3 linked regions of the Homo sapiens genome follow. The protein of the gene in region 3 interacts with the protein of the main gene of each other region in a pairwise test. Each region holds a gene or a part of one and is shown on either strand. Other genes may lie near its edges.

The links.
Region 1: the proteins of RRM2B (region 3) and ORC4 interact in binary tests that used the Homo sapiens proteins (3 or more experiments, as listed by UniProt).
Region 2: the proteins of RRM2B (region 3) and RNF41 interact in binary tests that used the Homo sapiens proteins (3 or more experiments, as listed by UniProt).

What each region holds. Positions count from the first base shown.
Region 1 is NC_000002.12:148,009,813-148,019,195, forward strand, and holds part of ORC4 (origin recognition complex subunit 4), read right to left. Parts: intron 1-9,383. UniProt on the Homo sapiens protein: Component of the origin recognition complex (ORC) that binds origins of replication. DNA-binding is ATP-dependent. The specific DNA sequences that define origins of replication have not been identified yet.
Region 2 is NC_000012.12:56,200,754-56,206,380, forward strand, and holds the end of RNF41 (E3 ubiquitin-protein ligase NRDP1), read right to left. Parts: 3' UTR 1,426-5,627; downstream 1-1,425. UniProt on the Homo sapiens protein: Acts as E3 ubiquitin-protein ligase and regulates the degradation of target proteins. Polyubiquitinates MYD88. Negatively regulates MYD88-dependent production of pro-inflammatory cytokines.
Region 3 is NC_000008.11:102,234,325-102,244,679, reverse strand, and holds the start of RRM2B (ribonucleoside-diphosphate reductase subunit M2 B), read left to right. Parts: upstream 1-5,718; 5' UTR 5,719-5,805; coding exon 5,806-5,853; exon of another isoform or gene 5,854-5,857; coding exon of another isoform or gene 5,858-6,121; intron 6,122-10,355.

The DNA of each region.
Region 1 (9,383 bases), on a different chromosome or scaffold from region 3:
TCCAATCAAAAGACACAGAAGAGCTGAAGGGCTAAACAAAACAAGGCCCTACTACCTGCTACATATAAGAAACCCACTTCATTTATAAAAACATAGATAGACCAAAAGATGGAAAGAGACATTGCATGCAAACAGAAATCCAAAAAGAGCACCATCATGTTAGGCCGCAAAACAAGTCTGATAAAAAGTATATTTTCTAACCACAATGGAATAAAAGTAGAAATAAATAACAAGTGGAACTTTGGAAACTATACAAACATATAAGAATTAAACAATACGTGCCTGAACAACCAATGAAGTAATTAAGGAAATTAAAAAATGTCTTGAAACAAATGAAAATGGAAACACAACCTACTAAAACTTATGAGATACAGTTAAAGCTAACACTAAAGGGAATGTTTATAGCAATAAATGTGCAAATCAAAAAGTAGAAAACCAAGAAATAAACAACCTAGTAATGCATCTTAAAGAACTAGAAAAGCAAGAGCATGCCAAGCCCCAAATTAAGAAGAGAAATAATAAAGAAAACAAGAAAATAAATAATAAAAAACAGAAATAAAATTGAGACAAAAAAATAGAAAAGATCAATGAAATGAAAAGGGTTGTTTGGAAAGACAGACAAAATCAATGAACCTTTACCCAGACTAAGAAAAGAAAAAAAAGAAGATCCAAATAAAATCAGAGACAAAAAAGGAGACATTACAATTGATATCACAAAAATTCAAAGGATCATTGGAGACCATTTGAACAACTGCATGCCAATAAATTGTAAAACCTAGAAGAAACGAATAAATTCCTAGGCACATACAGCCTAAGAAGAATGAAACATTAAGAAAACCAAAATCGAAATAGACCCATAATAAGTTTCAAGATAGAAACAATAATAAAAAGTCCCCCATCACAGAAAAGGCCAGGACTTCATGGCTTCACTGAGTTCTACCAAACATTTAAAGAAGAACTAACATCAATCCTACTCAAATCATTCTCCAAAATCAAGGAGGATCTCCAAATTCATTTTATGAGGCCAGATTTATTCTTTTTTTTTTTTTTTTTTTTTTTGAGACAGAGTCTCACTCTGTTGCCCAGGTGATCTGCAACCTCCACCTACTGGGTTCAAGCGATTCTCCTGCCTCAGCCTCCAGATTAGCTGGGATTACAGGCATAAGCCACCATGCCCAGCTAATTTTTGTATTTTTTGTAGAGATGGGGTTTCACCATGTCGGCCAGGCTGGTCTCAAACTCCTGGCTTCAAGAGATCTGCCTGCCTCAGCCTCCCAAAGTTCTGGGATTACTGGCGTGAGCTACCATGCCTGGCCCCAGATTTATTCTGATACCAAAACCAGACAACGATACAACAACAACAAAAAAGAAACTACAGGCCAGTATCTCTGATGAAAATAGATATAAAAATCTTCAACAAAACACAGCAAACCAAATTCAACAGCACATTAAAAAGATCATCATAATCAAGTGGGATTCATCCCAGGGATGTAAGGATGGTTCAACATATGTAAATCAATCAGTGTGATACATGGTATCAACAGAATGAAGGACACAAAGTGTATTGTCATTTCAATAGATGCCAAAAAAATCTTTTTTGATAAAATTCAATATCCCTTCATAAAAACTCTCAGCAAACTGGGGACAGAAGGATCATCCCTCAACATGATAAAGCCATACACAACAAACCCACAGTTAGTATCAGACTGAATGGGGGAAAAACTGAAAGCCTTTATTCTAGGATCTAGAAGAAGGATGGGCACTTTCACCACTATTACTCAAGTTAGTAACAGAAGTCCTAGCCAGAGTAAACAGACAAGAGAATGAAATAAAGGGCATTTAAATTGGAAAGGAGTAAGTAAAATTATCATTGTTTGCAGCTCATGTGATCTTATACTAACCTAAAGACTCCAACAAACGACTATTAGAACTAATAAATTCAGTAACATTGCAGAATACAAAATCAACACACAAAAATCCATAGAATTTCTCTATGCCAACAGTGACAACCTATCTGAAAAAGAAATCAAGAAGGTGATCCCATTTACAATAGCTACAAATAATATTAAATATCTAGAAATAAACTTAACCAACTACAATGCAAACTATCAAACATTGATGAAATTAATTGAAGAGGACACAAACAAATGAAAAGACATCCCATGCTCATGGGTTGAAAAAAATTGTATTGTTAAAATGACAATACTTCCCACAGCAATCTACAGATTCAAAGCCATCCCTATCAAGAGCAATGACATTCTTCACAGAAATAGAAAAAAAAAATCCTAAAATTGTATGGAAGCACAAAAGACCCCAAATAGCCAAAACAATCCTGACCAAAAAGAACAGAGCTGGTAACTGGTAGACTTACCACACTACCAAACCTCAAAATATACTACAACGCTATAGTAACCAAAATAGCACGATAGTGGCATAAAAACAGACATGTAGAACAACAGAACAGAGAGTCCAGAAATTAATCTGTGTATTTAAAGCCAATTAGTTTTTTACTAAGGTGCCAAAAACACTCATTGGGAAAGGACAGTCTCTTCAATAAATGGTGTTGGGAAAACTGGATGCCCACATTCAGAACAACAAAAGTAGACCCCAACTCTTGCCATATACAAAAATCAAAGAAAAATGCATTAAAGACTTACATCTATGAAACTAATCAAGGAAACCATTAGGCAAAAACTCCAGGACATTGGTCTAGGCAAAGACTTCTTAAATAAGACCTCAAAAACACAAGCAACTAAAGCAAGAAAATAAAATAAAATAACAACAAATGAGATCTCTCCAAGCCAAAAAGCTTCTGCACAGCAATGAAAACAATAAAATGAAGATATAACATGTAGAATGGGAGAAAATATTTCAAACTAATATCTGACAAAGGATTAATAACCAGAATATATAAGAATCTCAAACGACTCAATAGGAAAAAAAAATCTGATTTTAAAATGGGCAAAAGATCTGAGGAGACATTTCTCAAAAAGACATACAAATGGCAAACAGGCATATGAAAAAAATGTTCCACATTATTAATAATCAGAGAAATACAAATCAAAACTATAATGAGGTATCAACTCACTCCAGTTAAAATGGCTTTTATCGAAAAGGCAGTCAATATCAGATGCTGGTGAGAATGTGGAGAAAGGGGAACCCTTGTACACTGTTGGTGGAAATGTAAACTGGCACAGTCACAACAGAGAACAGTATGGAGCTTCCTAAAAACACAACAAATAGAACTATAATCCAGCAATCCCACTACTGTGTATATACCCAAGAGAAAGGAAATCAGTATATAAAAGGTATCTGTACTCCCATGTTAACTGCAGCACTATACACAATAGCCAGGATATGGAATCAACCTAACTGTCAATCAATGGATGGATAAAGAAATGTGGTACATATACACAATGGAATGTTATTCAGCCATAAAAAAAAAATGAAATCCTGTCATTTTCAACAATATGGATGTGACTGACATTATAAGGGAAATAAGCCAGGCATAGAAAGACAAGTATCACATGTTCTCACCCATATGTGGAAGCTTCAAAAAAATTGAAGTCATAGAGATAGTGAGTAAAAAGATGTTAGCAGAGGCTGGGAAGGGTAGTGTTGAGAGGAGAATCAAGAGGAGATGGTTAATGGGTAGAAAAATATAGTTAGATAGAAGGAATAAAATATAGTGTTCAGTAGCACAATATAGTAATTACAGCTAACAATAATTTAGTGTATGTTTTAGAACAATTAAATGAGTGGAAATGAAATGTCCCTAACACAAAGAAATGACAAATACTTGAGGTAATGGATATCCCAATTACCTGATTTGATCATTACACATTGTATGCTTATATCAAATATCACATACTCCCCATTTTATGTATCCATAGTAATTAAAAATTAAAATTTTTAAATATATGAGTTAAGTTAAAAAAATTTTGGCTCAAAGCATAAATATATTAAAATCAAATCTCAGAAGTAAAAAAGAAAGACAATTAGGGTTTTATTTATGGTAGTGGCAGACAGGACCAACCTTTCTGCTGACGCCAACAAAAAAACTAAATAATGAATGAAATAAAGTAATGTGAAATTACTTACCAAATTCCATGTGAAGGTAAACCAGAAACAAACCATACACCAAGTAACTTTTGTTCTGAGGACATTTTCCTGTCTAGAAGAAAAGGCTGAGAAAAAAGGCTGAGCTAATGGAAGATGTGCCGGTCTATGGTAAAAAAATCAAAGCACAAGGCCAGGTGTGGTGGCTCATGCCTGTAATCCTATCCTTTGACAGGCCAAGGCAGGAGGATAGCTTGAGCCCAGGAATTCAGGATGATTGTGTGCAATACAGCGAGACCTCATTTAAAATAAAAATAAACACAAAAAATCAAAATCAAAAATAAAAATAAAAGCACATTGCCTAACAAAGCTGGGGACTCAGATAAACTACCCAATTTATGTTCAGAGTTTAAGGACAACATCATTAGGATAAGAGGAAATTGAAGGAAAATAGAATTCATGATCTTAAAGTCTTCCTTAATGTCATGTGTATAACAGAAGGAATCCCAACTCTTGAACATGAATAGTGACTTGGGACTGAAAGCACTCCTAGAGACCTTTCCTAGAAAAATGTACCTTCTTAAAAAAGATACTATTATTCTAGGACTCATATATTCCTATAATTTTTTAAATACAACTGGTACTCAAGGCACACAAGAAAAAAATATCATAAGCTAGCAGACACAGACTTAGAAAATTTAGAAACTGGAATTATCTTCAACAAACAACAAATGAACTATGAATATAGTCGGCCCTTCATAGCCACAGATTCACTCAACCAAGGATTAAAAATACATGTATATTTTTAAAAACACGACTATAAAAAATAATAGAAATTTTTAAAAAGCCATGACAGTATAACAATATTTACATAGCATCTACATTGTATTAGGTACCATAAGCAATCTAGAGATTATTTAAAATACGTGGGAGGATGTGTGTAGGCCGTATGCAAACATGATGGCATGTTATATAAGGAATTTGAGCTGCCTGTGGATTGTGGTATCTGCACGGGGTTCTGAAACCAATTTCCAGCAGATACTAAGGAGCAACTATACTAGGCCAATAAAAGCAAGATTGTAATTTTCAGCAGGTAACCAGAAACAGTAAGAATATCACCAATATCTTTAAAAAGATACTGATGCATTGATCTAATAATCTCGATGAATACAGGGCAAGATAAAGAATGCCACACGATGATTGAACATTTCCTCTACCCCCACAACCACACTTGACTAGGAGAAAAAAAAAAAAGAAGAAAAGAATTCCACACAAAAAGATTAGAGTGAAACAGCAGAAAAATTACAACCAAAAAAAGAAACAAACAAAAAAAAATTCTAAAAGAGAGATTTCCTTCAAAGCAGCATGAATTATTAGGTTGGTACAAAATTAATTGTGGTTTTTGCATTGTTGGAATTTGCCATTTGATATTGGAATTTTTTTTTTTTTTTTTTTTTTTTTGAGATGGAGTCTCTCTCTGTTGCCCAGGCTGGGCTGCAGTGGCGCGATCTCGGCTCACTGCAAGCTCTGCCTCCAGGGTTCACACCATTCTCCTGCCTCAGCCTTCTGAGTAGCTGGGACTACAGGCACCCGCCACCACGCCTGGCTAATTTTTTGTATTTTTAGTAGAGACAGGGTCTCACCATGTTAGCCAGGATGGTATCGATCTCCTGACCTCGTGATCCGCCCACCTCAGCCTCCCAAAGTGCTGGGATTACAGGTGTGAGCCACCACACCCGGCCTGGAATACATTCTTAAATAAATGTGGTTATGTTATATGTCATTTTAATGGGCATTTCTTGCTTTTTTTTTTTGGCTAATGACTTATTACTTGCTGTTTATATTTATTTTGGACTATGGAAATGATGCTAGACAAAAAGCAAAGTTGAGTGATTTTCTTATTTAAGTTCAAAGTGGGTCGTAAAACAGCAGAGACAACTTGCAATATCAACAATGCATTTGGCCCAGGAACTGCTAATGAACGTACAGTGCAGTGGTGGTTCAAGAAGTTTTGCAAAAGATACCAGAGCCTTGAGGATGAGGAGTGTAGTGGCAGGCCACTGGAAGTTGACAACAACCAATTGAGAGCAATCATTGAAGCAGATTGATCCTCTTACAATTACATGAGAAGTTGCTGAAGAACTCAACGTAAGAACTCAACGTCAACCATTCCACAGTTGTTCAGTATTTGAAGCAAATTGAAAAGGTGAAAAAGCTCGATAAGTGGGTGCCTCACCAGCTGAGCAAAAATTTAAAAAAACACCGTTTTGAAGTGTTGTCTTCTCTTATTCTCCACAACAACGAACCATTTCTCAATCGGACTGTGAGGTGCAACAAAAACTAGATTTTATATGACAAGCAATGACCAGCTCAGTGGCTGGACCGCGAAGAAGCTCCAAAGCACTTCCCAAAGCCAAACTTGCACCAAAAAAGGCCATGGTAACTGTTTGCTGGTCTGCTGCCGGTCTGATCCACTACAGCTTTCTGAATCCTGGAGAAACCATTACATCTGAGAAGTATGCTCAGCAAATCAATGAGATGCACTTAAAACTGTGATGCCTGCAGCCAGCATGGGTCAACAGAAAGGGCCCAATTCTCCACAGTAACACCCAACCGCACACTGCACAACCAACACTTCAAAAGTTGAACGAACTGGGCTACAAAGTTTTGCCTCATCTGCCATATTCACCTGACCTCTCAACTGACTACCACTCCTTCAAGCATCTCTACAACTTTTTTCAGGGAAAATGCTTCCACAACCAGCAGGATGCAGGAAAAAGCTTTCCAAGAGTTTGTGGAATCCTGAAGCATGGATTTTTACATTACAGGAAAAAACAAACTTATTTCTTGTCGGCAAAAATGTGTTGATTGTAATGACCTATTTTAATTAATAAAGATATGTTAGAGCCTCGTTATAATGATTTAAAATTCGCTGTCCCAAACCACAATTTCTTTTGTACCAACCTAATGCATTGACAGCTGATTTCTCAAAATCAATAATGAAAACCAAAAACAGTGAAATGTTATCTTCAAGGTACAAGTAAAACAACCACAAATCTGTAATATCCCCCAAAACATTCTTCAAGATTGAAGGCAAAACAAAAAATTAAGACAAAGCAAAAAAATTAAGAGAACTGACCATCAGAATGTCTGCATTATGAAACTTCTACTGAGTGTGCTAAAGTAAAAGTTAAAAGATTCCAAAAGAAAAGTCAGAGACGCAGGAAGAAATTAAGACATGGTAAACACATAGGAACATCTAGCTCAAAGTACTGTCCAGCAGCAATACAGTAAAAGTGACATAAGTAATTTAAAATTTTCTATTGTTCACACTAAAAGAAAACAAGGTGAAATCAATTATAATTTCAACATGTAATCATAATGAAAAGCTGAGGTATTTTACATTGTTTTCATACTGTCTTTGAAATATGGTGTTTATACAACATTACAATGCAGATGCTAAATTAAAACTGCCATATAAAATACTTGATCTATATTTTTATATAATTTGCAGCTAATGCCGGGTGCAGTGGCTCACGTCTGTGATCCCATCACTTTGGAAGCCCAAGGTGGGTGGATCACTTGAGGTCAGGAGTTTGAGACCAGCCTAGCCAAAATGGTGAAACTTTGCCTCTACTAGAAATAAAAACATTAGCCAGGTGTGGTGGCACATGCTTGTAATCCCAGCTACTAGGGAGGCTGAGGCAGGAGAATCACTTGAACTTGGGAGGCGGAGGTTGCAGTGAGCCAAGATCATGCCACTGGACTCCAGCCTGGGCAACAGAGCGAGACTCCATCTCCAGGGGGGAAAAAATCTCCAAAAATTAAAAAATAATAATTTAATAATTTGCGGTTAAGAAAGGTTTATGTATCCGAGTTGTTCCAAACATACAGGTTTTACAGTAACTGAATCAAGTGTCAGTTTTTAAACTTAATTGAACACTAAATAAAACTAAAAATTCAGTTCCTCAGTCATACTAGCCACATTTCAAGTGCTCAAAAGCCACACGCAGCTAGTAGCTACTGCAATGAATAGCACAAGCATAGAACTTGTTATCTGGAGTTTAAACTACGTATACAATTCAAAGAACAATGACAGCCTATAAGACCTACATGAAGATAAAAGTTGCCATCCCAGAAGAGAGTAATGCTCCAAGCACAGAGAAGATATTGGCCATACTGCTAGAAATCCCTGAGTAAAACAGACAACCCAATTAAAACAAAAAACAAACAAACAAAAAAACCTCCCAAAAAGATTTAAAAAGACAATGCACAAAAGATTTAAGAATTAAAAAGACAATTCTAGAAAGAGGAAATTCAAATAGCCGGTAAGTTTTTGAAAAAGTGCTCAAACTCTTTAGTGTCCTGGGCAGAATAAATTAAAACAACAATAAGATAAAGCCACATTCATCAAGTTGGGAAAAAGGAAAAATAACTCTTGGTGAGACAGTAAAAGTAAAGGGATCTACCATATACTGCTGTCGGGGTATACATTGGTGTATCTACTTTGGAAAAGGCATAACTAGTGAAGTTGAAGATAAACATACGTACTCTACAAAAACCCATGGTAATGTACATTAAGAATACATGTACAAGAACATTCATAATAGCATTGTTCATAACTACTAAAAACGGAACACAATCCAAATGTTTATTAATATTAGACTAAACTGTGGCTCATTTCCATTAAGACTTTTTATACTATACTTATTATACTATAGATTACTACAATCCAATATAAGAACTAGAGCTAAATGTACTAATAGAGTTATATCCCAGCTGCATGAGAGAAAAAGATACATAATGATATGTAATATATAATCCACTTACATACAATTAAGAAACAGGCAAAACGAACCTAAATTGCTTAGGAATGCTGACATAGGTGGTTAAGAAATACTAAGAAAGAAAGCAGTAAATGATTGCCATAAAAATCAGTATAGTGTTAACCACTGAAAAGAATTGAGGAAAGGGATGATCAGGAATAGAATGGAGAGGGGAGCTTCTCAGGTGCCACAGACGTTCTAGTTCTTGACTGTGGCAGCGCTTACATAGAGTTCACACTTTATAGTTTTTCATTATACTATGTATCGATGTTTGTATGCTTAAATACTAAATGTATGGAAAAAGACACAAAATATTTAAAATTGTAGCTAAGGCACATTAACTGCCTTGCTGGTATTTTTTTTTTTCATTACAAAGTGGCAGACAATTGGTTACACTATAAAGACAGACAATTGGTTACACTACAAAGAAAATTTTAAAGCACAGGAGTCTAGTTTTGATTCCATCGGACATGATTACCGTACACAATACAGAAGATA
Region 2 (5,627 bases), on a different chromosome or scaffold from region 3:
GTAGTCCCAGCTACTTGGGAGGCTGATGAGGCAAGAGAATCACTTGAGCCCAGGAGGTGGAGGTTGCAGCGAGCTGAGATCGTGCCACTGCACTCCTGCCTGGGGGACAAAGCGAGACCCCATCTGAAAAGAAAAAAAGCAGTCAAGTTCAAACGACCATTCTCCAGAAAACTGGCTCAATCTTTTCTTTTCTTTGAGACGGAGTCTTGCTCTGTCTCCCAGGCTGGAGTGCAGTGGCACGATCTCGGCTCACTGCAAGCTCCGCCTCCTGGGTTCACGCAATTCTCCTGCCTCAGCCTCCCGAGTAGCTGGGACTACAGGCGCCCGCCACCACGCCTGGCTAATTTTTTTTTTTATATTTTTAGCAGAGACGGGGTTTCACCATGTTAGCCAGGATGGTCTCGATCTCATGACCTCGTGATCCGCCCGCCTCGGCCTCCCAAAGTGCTGGGATTACAGGCATGAGCCCCCGCGCCTGGCCAATCTTTTCAACAAATTAGGGTTACACAAAAAAAGGTGGTTTCATGAACCCAGATAGAGGGTAAAAGAGAAATAACCTGATGTAATTCGTGGTCCTGGATTGGACCCAGGTTTAGACACAAATTAGCTACAAAAGGACTTTTCAGACAGGTGCAATGGCTCACACTTGTAATCCCAACACTTTGGGAGGCTGAGGTGGGCAGATCACTTGAGCTCAGGAGTTTGAGACCAACCTGGGCAACATGGTGAAACCCTGTCTCTACAAAATATACAAGAAACAAATCAGCTGGGCATGGTGGTGCACATCTGTGGTCCCAGCTGCTTGGGAGGCTGAGATGGGAGGACTGCTTGAGCCCAGCAGGAGGTCAAGGCTATAGTGAGCTGTAGTGAGTCGTGATTGTGCCACTGCACTCTAGCCTAGGTGACAAGAGTGAGATCCTGTGTCAAAAAAAAAAAAAAGACTTTTCTTGGGACAATTAGGGTAATGTAAACATGGGTTTGTAGTAGATTATTCATTATACATTGTTAATTGTAAACACTTGTTATTTAGGTAATGTCAAAAATATTTTTATTTTTCCAATGTATATACTGAAGTAAAAAATTAAGACAATGAAGCCAGGTGCAGTGGCTCACACTTGTAATCCCAGCACTTTGGGAGGCCAAGGCAGGTGGATTCCTTGAGCTCAGGAGTTTGAGACCAGCCTCAGCAACATGGTGAAACCCCATCTCTACAAAAAATACAAAAAATTAGCCCGGTGTGGTGGCGCATGCCTGTGGTCCCAGCTACCTAAGAGGCTGAGGTAGGAGGATCACTTGAGCCTGGGAGGTGGAGGTTGCAGTGAGCCAAAATTACGTCATGCACTCCAGCCTCAGCTACAGAGCCAGACCCTATCTAAAAAAAAAAAAAAAAAAAAAAAAAAAATTAAGACAGTGTATCAAAGTCACTGAAAGAGATGAAACAAAAAAAATTTTACTAGTATTAAAACAGATTAAGACAATTCCAGGTGCAGTAGCCCCAGCTACTCCAGAAGCTGAAGTGGGAAGACCACTAGAGCCCAGGAGTTTGAGGCTACAGTGAGCTATATGATGGTGCCACTGCACTCCAGTCTGGGTGACAGTGTTCTTTCTACTCCCTCCTTCCCCCAGTTCTCCTGACCTTAAAAGTTTAGAACAGGTTGGCAAATTTTTTTCTGTAAAAGACCAAGTATTTTAGGCTTTGTTCCAGCTACTTAACCCTGCTGTTGTAATGTGAAAGCAGCCACAGACAATATATAAACAAGTGGGCATAACTGTATTCCAATAAAGTTTTTTACAAAAGCAGGCAGTGGGGTTGTAACCTGTAGTTTGCTGACCTCTGACCTATAACAAGTAACACTTCCTGAAAAGCCTTTCCTGATACCCATCAGAATCAGGAGCTTTATCGTCCTTGGCTCACATATTACTAGTAAATCCACTTAGCACATTTATGATCCCTTATTATATATTCATCTCCATTAGGGACTAAGTTCTTTGCAGGTAGGTGCCATTTTGCTACATAAGCCTCCTCATGTTCACTCTAGTGAGTATCTCACAGGGCAGACATTCAATGAATATTTGTTTCTAAAAATCGTATCTTCTGTAAAAGGACAATATGACACCATTCATAACATTCACAAGAATGAGCAGCAAGTTCTAAAAGTAATTTTAAAGGAGTTTAAGGGGGGAAAAGCACTGCTAATGTCACTAGGATACATACATTGCCTCTTATGCTCTATACTGTGACATGCTTATCAGTATTTTATAAACATACCTTGTGTGCATAGAAGCGCAGACTCAGCACAGAAATGCCTTTTTTTTTTTTTTCAAGCCACTAGAGTATCAAGAGTACTATTAGGTTTACATCAGGTGCATGATAAATGCTCAAATTTAAAACAAACTTCTGGGAGGAGGAAAAGATATCCCTTTTTCTTTTCTTTTCTTTTTTTTTTTTGAGACAGGCTCTTGCTCTGTCACCAGGCTGGAGTGCAGTGGCATGATCTCAGCTCACTGCAACCTCCACCTCCCAGGTTCAAGCGATTCTTGTGCCTTAGCCTTCCAAGGAGCTGGGATCATAGTGGCGTCCCACCATGTCTGGCTATCCTTTTTCTTATGACAGGGAAAGGTAGCAGCAAATACTTATGAAGACTGGTTTTTTTTTTTTTTTTTTTGAGACGGAGTCTTGCTCTGTTGCCCAGGCTGGAGTGCAGTGGCGTGATCTCAGCTCACTGCAAGCTCCGCCTCCCAGGTTCACACCATTCTCCTGCCTCAGCCTCCTGAGTAGCTGGGAGGACAGGCGCCTGTCCGGCTAATTTATTTATATTTTTAGTAGAGACAGGGTTTCACCATGTTAGCCAGGATGGTCTCGATCTCCTGACGTTGTGATCCACCCACCTTGGCCTCCCAAAGTGCTGGGATTACAGACGTGAGCCACCGTGCCCGGCCTATGAAGACTTTTTTTTTTTTTTTTTTTTTTAGACGGAGCCTTGCTCTGTCGCCCAGGCTGGAATGCAGTGGCCCAATCTCTGCTCACTGCAAGCTCTGCCTCCCGGGTTCACGCCATTCTCCTGCCTCAGCCTCCTAAGTAGCTGGGACTACAGGTGCCTGCCACCACGCCCGGCTAATTTTTTGTATTTTTAGTAGAGACGGGGTTTCACTGTGTTAGCCAGGATGGTCTCGAACTCCTGACCTTGTGATCCACCCACCTCGGCCTCCCAAAGTGCTGGGATTACAGGCGTGAGCCACCGCGCCCGGCTATGAAGACTATTTTTATAAGTAAATAATTATGAAACCTCTGCAAGTACATTTCCCTCCTCACATTTACGTTCTTAGCTAGGAAACACTGGGAGGTAGAGACTTCTCTGCCTGCAAAGGAATTCTAGATTCTAAAGCAAAGTTGCTTGTGGGACAAAGGAAAAAGATATATACATATCTTCTGTAGAAATTATCCCAAAAACTCAGGACCACTCAGGGAAGACATGGAATTTAGGATAAAGGCAGACCCTGGGAAGCACACAGTTCAGATCACTAGAGAGCTTTGGCTGCTACAGAACAGGAGATAGGAGGGAAGAATGCAGGAGGGTACATGGGAAAGCAGCTGTGAAGTGCACACTACTCCCAGACATCCTCCTGAAAGAGAAGTTAGCACTAAGATAAGGGTAGGTAACAAAGTAAGGAAGAAAGGGAATTAAGGTGAGAGAAAGGCAAAAGCAGAGGGGAAACCTTCTCAAGAAAGGGAGTAATGCTGAAGAATTTAGAGAGTTGAGTAAAAGGTTTATTATTAGTGCAGTCAACACCATGGAACAGCACATACAACACAACCAGCAACCTGCAGAGACACTAGTGCAAAGGGTAGGGAAGCCTTTCACTGAGCTTCCTGGCTCCATCTGAGGGTAAGGACAGGACAGTATGAGCCTTGGTTAAGGCAGGTAGGGGAAAGGGGAGTGGAAGAAATGTAGTAACCAGAGTAAGTATAGCAGCGTTTTCAAATTCCTGAGCACAATGTCCCAGAGCTGGAACCCTACTCCCCTCAAGCTTTCCACCCCAATCCCAGTGGAGCCATGATCCAACTACCCAGACCTGCAGCAAGCTAGCCTGGAATAAAATTCTGAGAGGAAGCCATTACATGGTGGGGAGGAGCCTTTCTATCTCCAACCACACTCCCACCTCCATATTAAAATAATCACACCTATTATCTCTCCCCTTCTCTTACTCTGCCAGTCACTCTAGGGATCAAGGTATACCCCAGGTAACCTGAAATGGAACTGAAGTCCCCAGGGGGGTGTGGGTGAGACACGGCACAGCCTGTACTTAGAGATAAAATTTCTGATTTGCATGGTGAAGCTTAGAACCCAGCTATACAGCTCCAAGGAAACTTGGGGAAGGGGGAGTTGCCTTCAAAATGAATACTCTAAATCCAGAGTTTTATGATAAGGCCCTGGAAGGGCTAGGAGGAAATTTTTCCAGAGGGCACAGGCATCGATGCTGGACTGTCATATCCTTCACAGGAAGAGAGGAAGCTCCTCATTTCAGTTGGGGTTACAGAGGTTTGGGGCAGATATCGTAAGTTCAGCCGAGGACTCCCTTGGCTCTTCCTATATTAAAGCCAAAGGTTGTGCTGAAAAGGAAAAAATATAAAACACACCCCCATCCCTGTCCCACCCTATCCAGAACCCCCACAATAGGAACATCAAAAGAAAAGTTTCAAGTTTGATTTTTTTTTCTTTTTTCCTTTCTTAAAAAAAAAAAAAGGAAGTAAATAAATTAAATTGCCAACAATGTGGCTGAGATAGCCATGATCAGGCCATTCTTAAAAAAAAGAGGGGGGGGGGCAGTAGGTGGAGTTTGTGAAATATAAACAAACAATGGCCAAAGAAAATTATCAAAGTAACTAACTACAGTCACAGGGCTAGAGAGGGGTCTATGGAACAATTATGGCCTGTGCCACAAGAGGCAGTGCCAACCATATTTTAGCAAAAGCTAGGAGTAGCTTCTTGCTAAACACATCAACCCCCAACAGATTAACCCCTACCCTAAACCCTGGCATTCCCTAATTATGAAAACTTGTAGGAAAGAAGAGCTCATCTGGAAATTTTCAGTATCCCAACCTGCATACTGGTAGACCCAGTGGGTGCCTACACCTTTAAGGTGGGCTGAACAGGGATACTGCTTGGCACAGAGGTCCAGTCTTTCCCTAAGGGCCATCAGTGATGGCCAATTAACGGCCTCACTACTTATTTCTAGAGATTTGGCTCCACCCTTACCATTTCTTCAGGATGTCTGCTGCTTAGAGTCAACAGGCCTGACTGCTCTGATTCCCTGGTTTTGGAGGAGAGGGACGATTAGAGATTCCTTCCTCTGTCCTGATCCTCCAGGGAAATTGAATCTCTTTGTGCTTTCTGAAAATAACTGGAACCAGGGACCCTAAGCAGGAAAATGGATGGAGGTGGGGGCTTTCCCACCCAGACTGATAATTTATAGACATTTTAGGGGAATATGGCAAAGGGAGGAAATCTGGGTTTCCCACCTGAAAGGCTGAGCAAACTACCCCAAGGCCCTTCAGTGCCAGAAGGGCAGGGAGATGTGTGGCTCAGGTATAAGCCACAGTATTAAGAATGGTGGGTAGGACTCAG
Region 3 (10,355 bases):
CCTATGATAGCCATACCTTCTTCTGGAATACCTCCTGAAGGACCTGCCTGAAGCTATTTTACAGTTACTGATTTTTTTATATATATAATTAGAAGGAGTATACACTAAAATAATGATAACTATAGTAAATACATAAATCAGTAATATAGATTATCACTATCAAGTATTATGTAGTGTACATAATTATATAAGCTATACTTTACACACTGGCAGATTTGTTTACAGTAGCATCAACACAAACACATGAGTAATGTGTTGTGCTATGACTATAACGTCACTATGATAGGAACTTTTCAGCTCCATTATAATCTTATAGGACCACCACCATATATGGGGTCTATCATTGACCAAAATGTTACATGGCACTTGACTGTATCCTATTTGTTAGAAGTTAGTATTAATAGCCGGGTGCCGTGGCTCACGCCTGTAATGTCAGCACTTTGGGAGGCCGAGGCAGGTGAATCACGAGGTCAAGAGATCAAGATGATCCTTGCTAACACGGTGAAACCCCGTCTCTACTAAAAATTAAAAAAATTAGCTGGATGTGGTGGTACTCGCCTGTAATCCCAGCTATTCGGGAGGCTGAGGCAGCAGAATCACTTGAATCCGGAAGGCGGAGGTTGTAGTAAGCCGAGACCGTGCCACTGCACTCCAGCCTGGTGCCCGAGCGAGACTCTGTCTCAAACAAACAAACAAACAAACAAACAAACAAAAGTTAATATTGATGGCCTATATGCAAAGGGAAGTGCATTAGACACCACCTTTTAAGGGGAGGTGTATCCAAGTTCTGGAACAGCATATGGTACCAGAAATATTGTTGTGGCCATTTTTGGAAAATACAATATGCCATAAAGTCCATATGAAGATGCAGAATCCTCTTACTCCTTGAGATCTTTCAGTTACGCGTGTTATTTTTTTCCATTTGCTCTTCCAATAACTTTGAACATCCTGGGGGAAACTCACACTGCCTACACTATTCTGAGTACTGTGATGTTTTTGCTGTGTCATTTAAGAATATTCAATTCTGCCACAGAAATTGAGAGAAACTAAGTATGGGAGCAAATGGCTTGTTAGACATAATGAAATTTGTAAGATGTATTAAGTATAAATAATAAATAATTACACTGTGAGGCATGTTAAAAATAGGATGAATGGAACATATATGTATTGAACATACACAAAAATAATGGAACACATGAGAGTTCCACTTTTAGATTAAAAGGGCTAGAAGGACCAAGTAAATTTTTTTTTTTGAGACGGAGTTTCGCTCTTGTTGCCCAGGCTGGAGGGCAGTGGCACAATCTCAGCTCACCACAACTTCCGCCTCCCAGGTTCAAGCGATTGTTCTGCCTCAGCCTCCCGAGTAGCTGGGATTACACGCTTGCACCACCACGCCTGGCTAATTTTTTATTTTTAGTAGAGACAGGGTTTCTCCACGTTGGTCAGGCTGGTCTCGCACTCCCGACCTCAGGTGATCTGCCCACCTCGGCCTCCCAAAGTGCTGGGATTACAGGCGTGGGACACGGTGCCCAGCCCCAAATAAATCTTAAATATTCATAAGGTAATGATCATGTTACTGCCAGACTGACAACTATGTTATCCCTAAACCAGCCACTCACTGGTGAGATCCACTCTGGCCCCACACGTGCTCTGTCCAAGAAACACAGATACCATCCATAGCTGCTCAGTAGGTTAATTATAACTGGTTATAAATGCAGTTATAGCTGGAGTCAGGTTCCAGCAGTTCTCCAAAAGAAAAGTGTGTGCTGGCTCCACCTTCTACCTGCTGAGCAGTCTTGCTCATCCTCACTATGGTCCTCATAACTACACCACCAGCAAGGAAGTCTGATGCATCAAACAGTACACGAACAGTAACATTAAGATTCAGATGGTATAATCCTTCCACTCTCTCCCCTCCCCACATCCTAACCAAAATATGTTAGTCCACTCAATCTCTTTCCCCTTGCTGTTATGTTTTAAAATGATTTAATAGGGTACAGCTTGTGTGCTTGTTTGGCACAGAACTGGCACCTGTTTTGTGAAGTGGCAGCTAAGAAGACTCTGGCTGACAGAAAGCCCAAAGAAGGAGGCAAGATTGAGAACAACAATCCTATTAATTTGAAGGTGGCAGGGCAGAATGGGTCTGTGGTGCAGTTTAAGATTAAAAGGCATATTCCAGCCGGGCGCAGTGGCTCACACTTGTAATCCCAGCACTTTAGGAGGCCAAGGTGGGCGGATCACCTGAGGTCAGGAGCTCGAGACCAGCCTGGCCAACATGGTGAAACCCCGTCTCCACTAAAAAAAAATACAAGAATTAGCCAGGTGTGGTGGCAGGTGCTTGTAATCCCAGTTACTCGGGAAGCTGAGGCAGGAGAATCACTTGAACCTGGGAGACAGAGGCTGCAGTGAGCCGAGATCCCGCCACTGCACTCCAGCCTGGGTGACAGAATGAGACTCCGTCTTAAAAAAAAAAAAAAAAAGGTGTATACCACTTAGTAAATTAATGAAAGCCTATTGTGAACAGGGTTAGGCAATGAGGTTGATCAGATTCTAGACTTCATGTGCAACCAATCAATGAAATAGACACACCTGTAAAGTTGAAGATGGAGGCTAAAGATACAATTAATGTGTTCCAAGGACAGGAGGTTTTGACTAAAAATGGAGCCTGCTACTTTATTACAGAACTCTGTTCTTACGGACCAAGAATGCATTTTCAATTAGAAAACTGCGATTTGGTTCCATCACACCCTGACTACTACAGTATAGTTTTCTCTATCATTTTCCTCTTCCCCATTACTTTATTATATGTATATATTAGTTACAATGTAACTATGTAAACAATTAAATGTGTAACTGCAAGATCTCTAGGAGTAACAGAATTCTACATCTTCATATAGTCTTTATGGCATATTGTATATGCCATAGTTATAATGCATAAAAGCGTATTGCATTTTTTAACCAAATGGTCAATTTTTTTTTTTTTTTTTTGAGACGGGGTGTTGCTCTTGTTGCCCAGGCTGGAGTGCAGTGGCGCGATCTTGGCTCACCACAACCTCCGTCTCCCGGGTTCAAGTGATTCTCCTGCCTCAGCCTTCCGAGTAGCTGGGATTACAGGCATGCGCCACCGTGCCCGGCTAATTTTGTATTTTTTTAGTAGAGATGGGGTTTCTCCATGTTGGTCAGGCTGGTCTCGAACTCCCGACCTCAGGTGACCCACCCGCCTTGGCCTCCCAAAGTGCTGGGATTACAGGCGTGAGCCACTGCGCCTGGCCCCAATGTTATCTTTTGATCCGCATCAAATGAAGATAGGATGGGCGGAGAAATATGGTTTTGTGAAGACTCCCTTCTCCATTAATGCCATGCTCATTCAGGTCTTATCTTTATATTCCAGTTCGTTATTTTGCTCTGTTTTAACCAAAAAAACCCCACACACAAAACAAAACACCATAACAGTTTTTGCATATCTTCTTCAGTTGAAGAATTGTAATGTATTTTGTTTATGATTGTAAAGCCAAGGACAATTCTTTTTTTTTTTTTGAGACTGAGTTTTGCTCTTGTCATCAAGGCAGGAGTGCAATGGCACAATCTCAGCTCACTGTAACCTCTGCCTCCAGGATTCAAGCTATTCTCCTGCCTCAGCCTCTCAAGTAGCTAGAATTATAGGCATGCGCCAACACGCCCGGCTAATTTTTGTATTTTTAGTAGAGACGGGTTTTGCCATGTTGGTTAGGCTGGTCTCGAACTCCTGGCCTCAGGTGATCCACCCGCCTTGGCCTCCCAAAGTGCTGGGATTACAGGCGTGAGCCACCGTGCCGGCCTAGCCAAGACAATTTTATAACTCTTTGTACGTGGCTATTACATGTAAGGCAATCTTTCAGTAATGACACATTACTCTTAAAAAAAAATCCTAGTTTTCCTTTCAAGTCAAATGTCTTGTTTGAATAAACTTATTTAAAATGAAAATAAATTGATTTAATAAACTGTGTGACTCAGGCATCTCAATTTGATCTGAGCCTTTTGAACTCAGCCATCTGAGTTCCATGACCCTCTGGGATGGCCTGACTCGTACGTGGAAGCTACCATTGCATCAAGGTAATTTCCCACCCCAATAAGTGTTTTACAAGTAATATATTATTAAATTCACACAACAACCTTATGAGGAAGGGATTATTATTCTTATCCTGTAGATGAGAAAGCTGAGTCTCAGAGAGGTTAATTGACCCAAGGTAGCATAGCTAATAAGTGAGGGAACTAGAATTCATGCCCATGATGATATGACTTTTTCACCAAACTCATTCATGTTTGTATCTTGAATACCTAAACGTGATGCCCGACACACAATTATTGTTTGATGACTTTAATTGAATCTGATTATTTGCCACGTGGCCTATAGTAAATTGAGACTCAGTTGCCTAGCAGAATGTATGTGGCTATTATTTAAAGTTCACAGATGAAAAAAATTTCACTCAGCATTTGACCCCTAGTAGTTGCTTTAAGAAAGACTGTCTACCCCTACGCTATGGCAGGTTTGAGAAAGGGCTTTCAGCATTTTCAACGCTTAAAGTGAGATCTTGATCCTATTTACCATCCTTCAGCCAGCCACAAAACAGGTGCATGCTGTTCAGGTCATGGCAAGATCCCGTCAATCTTTCAGCTTCAAACTACTTAAACAAATCTCTCTTCCATTTTATTTTTGTTAGACCAAACTATTTTTTTCAAAATATATTTTTTTCAAAATATTTGCCTGACTTTAGTAACGTGTCCCTCTCCCCCTCACTCACCCGCATTCACACACACACACACACACTTTCCCCCAGACACTTCCCCTTTTCGGTTGTTTACGCACGAAACCAGCCAGCCCTTTCCCTAGCGAAGTGTTTGGCGGTGTAGCTGTCCCGTCCCCGGCGCTTCCCACAGCAACAGCGCGTTCTCTTCGCCTCCCGCAGTCTCTCAGGACAGGCCAGGCTAGCGCAAAGTACCGTGTTCCTGGAACACCACGAGGGCGAGCTCGGGAATCTCGAGCCGGCCTGCAGGACACCTGCCGCACCAAGTGGCTAGAGCCCGGGGAGGGCGAGGCGAGGTGGGACGAGGCGGGGTGGTGAGCGGGCCGGGAAGGCGAGGCCGCGCGGACTCTGGGATAGCTCCTCAGGAGTGGGCGCCCGGAGTGGGCGAGCGGAGGAGGCGGGGCCGATGAGGTGAGGTGGGGCCAGCTGGAGTAGGCTAAGCAGTCCAGAGCAGGGGGCGTCCCTCAGTGGAAAGCCGGGCGACTGGGCGGTGCAACAGAGTAAGGCGGGGCCAGCGGAAGCAGGGAGATTTCCTTAGGCCGCAGGCGGGGAAATGGGGCTGGCCGGGGTAGGCGGAGCCCCGAGGCAGGGGAGGCGTGGCTGGCAGAGGTAGGCGGTGCCCCAAGGCAGGCGGGGCTTGCCGAGACAGGGATAATCCCTTAGGCCACAGGCTGGGAGGCAGGGCAGGCCGAGGCGGGGAGGATCCCTTAGGCCGCAGTAGGGGAGGCGGGTCGGCCGAGGCGGGGAGAAACCCTTAGGCCGCAGGCGGGGAGGCGGGGCTGGCCGAAGTTAGGCGGAGCCCCGAGGCGGGGGAGGCGGGGCCGGGCCGGCGCAGGGAGAGTCACTCAATGGACAGGCGAGAAAGCAGGACCGGCGCGGCGGGGCGGGGCCGGCCGAGTCCCTAGAGCTGGGGGCGGGGCGGACCCAGCGGACCAGCGGACCACCTGGGTGCTGTCGTAGTTGGAGGTGGCCTGAGGAGCTCAGTTCCCTCAGCGCCCGTAGCTTCGGCGGAGTCTGCGCGATGGGCGACCCGGAAAGGCCGGAAGCGGCCGGGCTGGATCAGGATGAGGTAAATGTTGCTGTTGCGTCTTCCCCCTCACCGCAGTCACGCCAGCCCGTTAGATTGCAAGTTGCAGGACCGCTGTAGGAAATGTTATTCGCCGCGGTCAGGACAGGCCTGTCCGCCCGCCCTCGCCGCAGCCTGGCTTCGTCGTTGCGAGCGCCGGGGAGGCCGTCCCCGGGGAGGGCGGAGGAAGGAGCTGACTTTGGGTTTGCGTCCCGCTCGCTGCTCTGCCCCGGGGCCAGCCAAGGACGACGCTTGGAGGCCTCAGGCCGGGGTGAGACTTACCCCTGCGTTTATCCGCCTCACGCTCTCCCACCCTCCTTCCCTGTTTTGGAGCCCTGGCCAGGGAAACCGAGGCAAGGAAAGAGGACTGTGGCGGCTCTGCTGGAGAGGTGCATACCATTTGGGATGGTGACAAGGAGTTGGAGAACGCGTGTGGAAATTGACACAGGTGGCTGGGGTGAAGATGACAGGTAGAAGGGGACACGAAATCCTCATGACCTCCTCCCAGTGAAAAAATCAGGGTAGGAGGCCAGTTTTGCTCAGGCCCGGCTCCTTAACTAACTGAATCTTCGGGGTGTCACTTTCTTCCTTTATACAATGGAAGTGATACTTCAGAGAGAATTAAGTAAAATGCTTTATGCAAAGTGCCACGAAAATTGTAGGTGCTTAATAAGCCCAAGTTGTTCATCCAAGTTGTTTATGCTGATAAAAGTACCTAAAATAAATAAACCAGAATTTGTTAGACTGTAGGATTGTATGGTAGTTTAAACTGTTGCTGTATAATTTTCAAACACTGTCATTTTGCAAATACTTCTAAGCCCTTTGTGGACAAGAGAAATGCTTTTTGTACTACTGGAACCTGTTGCTGTGGTATCTTTGATTTAATACTGTGAAGATTTGGGGGAAACAAACGTTTCCACCCCAAGAGATTCATGCTTGGCCCTACATTTCTTTAGAAAGTTGTAGATTCCAGGTTTGAGATTTTATTTTATTTAACTTGATTTTTGTAAGCATTTAGTAACTAACTGTAAATATCCCTCAAGCTTTTTCTTCCTGTTTTGAAACAAATGCGTTTAGTACCAACTTCCCTACTCAAAGGGGAAAATTCAGACTGCTGTTTATGCTAATGGCACCAGCAGTGATTCAGGCTTAACACCTGGATATTACATTTTATTTATTACTCCTATCTCAATGATACAGACCCGCAAGGACAGACAGAATTTTAGATTCAGAATGAATTTTAGTGGTCCAAAAGTTTTTAACTTGAGATGCTGGGTTGCCTGAAGCACTTTGTTTTTCTAGATGCCAGAGTGCATAATAGGAGACCTGCATCAGAGTCACTTGGAGTATTTTGTAAAAAATGTAAATTGCTGGACCAACACCCCAAACATAGTGAATCAAAATCTCTTGAGATCTGCATTTTTAACAAGTACTTCAGGTGATCCTGGTACACATATTAAAACAAAAACAAAAAACCCCCCACTGTCTTAAAGGGTCCATAGATAGACTAGAAGGGGCTTTATAAATCTCCTGAAGTGATATGTAGATTTTGTATGTGCAGATGTGAATCTTCTGAGAAAGGGGTCCATAGTTATTGTCAATTTCTCAGAGTTAACTATTGCTAATCTAATTCATAGTCTATTGTCAAGGTAAAGTTTAGGCCAGAAAACATTAAATGGCATGCCCAGGACTCAGTAGAGGAGCTAAATTTAAAACCAAGTTCTTGCACCTGGGCGGGTATCCCATTGGTTCCGTCAGACTTTGTGGGAATAGAAGTGAAAATAATACTTACAAGTAGTGTATGACTATGACAACATACAGCTATTTTACAGAAGTAGAAGAGACATAAAGGCAAAGAAACGGAAGTGGTGGAATTGGGGCTGGATAGGAGGTAAGAGCCTGGTATGATGCCAGCCTAGATTGGGGCATCGTAAGTGCTTGCTGGGAAATCTTGACCTAAATTGTTGTCCTGACATGCCCAGGCATGTCTTCCAACTGGGTGACCAGAAATTGAGTCAGTCGGAAACTGGAAGTACCATTCTGGAAAAAACAGCAGAATGTCACTAAGGAATGCCTACTGCTAAACTTTATTTCAAATTCTCATCACTTTACACCTGTGCGGCTATAATAATTTTGTTGTTTCTCTATCTCCTATCTTACCTGCCATTCAATCCTAATTACCATTGCCAAGTTAATCCTTCATTAGACCAGTGCCTCAGTGTCACTGACCCTGTGTCCCCCAAAAAACTCCCAAAAGAGTCTCAATTCCTACCAAAAAGCCTGGCCAACACCTCAGGCTGGTGAAGTCTTGTTGAAGCTGCTTTTTTCATGCTAACTGCCACATCTTAATTCAAGTCCTCATTTCCATCTTTGAAATTGGTTCCTTAGTTGCTTGCAAAATCTAGTTTTTTATCAATTAATCCTATACGTGGTTTTCTGATTAGTCTTCCTAATGCCACCTCTATTCATGTTAATTCCCATTCAGAAACTCTCCATGACTATTTGTACCCCCAAATCTGTGGGGTACAGATTTTCAAACTGTACCCTGCTATGAACGCCAGCACCTGGGGTTGGGGGCAAATGGGGAGAATTGGAGTATGAGCCTTCTAGACCTCCGATGTTTGAAGATCTTTGGCCACAAAATTGATTCCTAACCTCTTAGTCTGATTTATCTTAAGAGTCTAGATCCTTTGCTTTAGCCAAATCACATCATTCCTACTTTTGCTTTTCCTTGTCCTGCATCCATTTCAGCCTGTTTTAATCTCAGCTGGCTTCTCTTCTTTCATCTGCCCTTTAAATATCAGCATTCTCTAAGACTGTATCCTCAGTTGTCTTGCTGCTCTATATGTTCTCTCTGGATAATCACATCCATTCCCTTGGCAACCACTAATGGGATCTCCATCACTCGTGTTCTGCAGTGTTATATTTTTAACTGCTTACTGGACATCTTGAAACTGAATTCATTATCTTTTCTATTCTTTTTTTTTTGAGACGGAGTCTCACTCTGTCACCAGGCTGGAGTACATACAGTGGCACAATCTCGGCTCACTGCAACCTCTGCCTCTTGGGTTCAAGTGATTCTCCTGCCTCAGCCTCCCGAGTAGTTGGGAGTACAGGCGTACGCCACCACGCCCGGCTAATTTTTGTATTTTTAGTAGAGACGGGGTTTCACCATGTTGGCCAGGATGGTCTCAATCTCTTGACCTTGTGATCCGCCCGCCTCGGCCTCCGAAAGTGCTGGGATTACAGGCGTGAGGCACCACGCCGGGCCTGAATTCATTATCTCTTCTAATGACCTAGTTGACTTTGTGAGGATATTGTGTTTGTAACTTTGTTGTTGTCGCCTGGCTTGGTGGGAGGAGTTAAATTAAACTTCCGTTAAACATCTAATGTGAGAAGCAAAATTTTTGTCTGATTTATTTATTTATTCTCCAGGTACTGAGCACCTTGTGTGTGCCTTTTAGATCTTGTTATCACCCAGTTACTGGAGCTGGAAACATCAAGGGCATCTTTAACTGTTCTTGCCCCTTGTCCCAAATTCAAATTTTTAGGAAGAATAATTCATTCTACTTCTGAATATCACTTAAATCAATTTTTGTGTGTGTTTCTAGTTCAGGCAAGAGATGGGTAGTACAATAATCTTTTCATTGTTCTTTCTGCCTCTAATTTCTCTTCTAATCTAGCAATGTTTCTAGAAAAGCGATCTTAAAAGATATATCTGATTATGTTATTTGCCTTATTAAAAACCTTCAGTGGCTCCCAATAGCATACATCTTAGAGTTATTAGATGCCAAAGTGTTTTATATCAAAGCAGACCACTTTAACCTCCAAAATTTTTTAAAAATCAGATTACTACTAACCAATTTTGCTCTTTTATTAACCCTGTAAAAATATAGATACCCATGAGCTTTGAAATTTCTATGTCTAGTAGGCTGCTCTCTCATGCACCCATATATTTCTTTTTGTTTTGTTTTGTTTTTTGAGATGGAGTCTTGCTCTGTCACCAGGCCTGAGTGCAGTGGCGTGATCTCAGCTCACTGCAATCTCTGCCTTCTGGGTTCAAGTGATTCTCCTGCCTCAGCCTCCCGAGTAGCTGGGACTACAGGTACGCGCCACCACACCCAGCTAATTTTTGTATTTTTAGTAGTGACAGGGTTTCACCATGTTGGCCAGGATGGTCTCGATCTCTTGACCTTATGATCCGCCCGCCTCGGCCTCCCAAAGTGCTGGGATTACAGGCGTGAGCCACCGCGCCCTGCCCATCATATCTTTTTTCACATTTTTTTTTTCTTCTAAAATATGGGTTCTTAGATTAGGTCCACAGAGGGTACTGTGGAGAGCCTAGAGTTTCAAGATGCATGAACTTTCTGAAATTGTATTCAAATGTATGTTTGTGCACGTTTCTAAGCATTATGAAATAATACGTCATCTCTAGCCCAGCTCAAAGGTTGATGTTGGTTAACCTCCTTCTCTTCACATTGCAAAATCCCTCATAATACACTCCT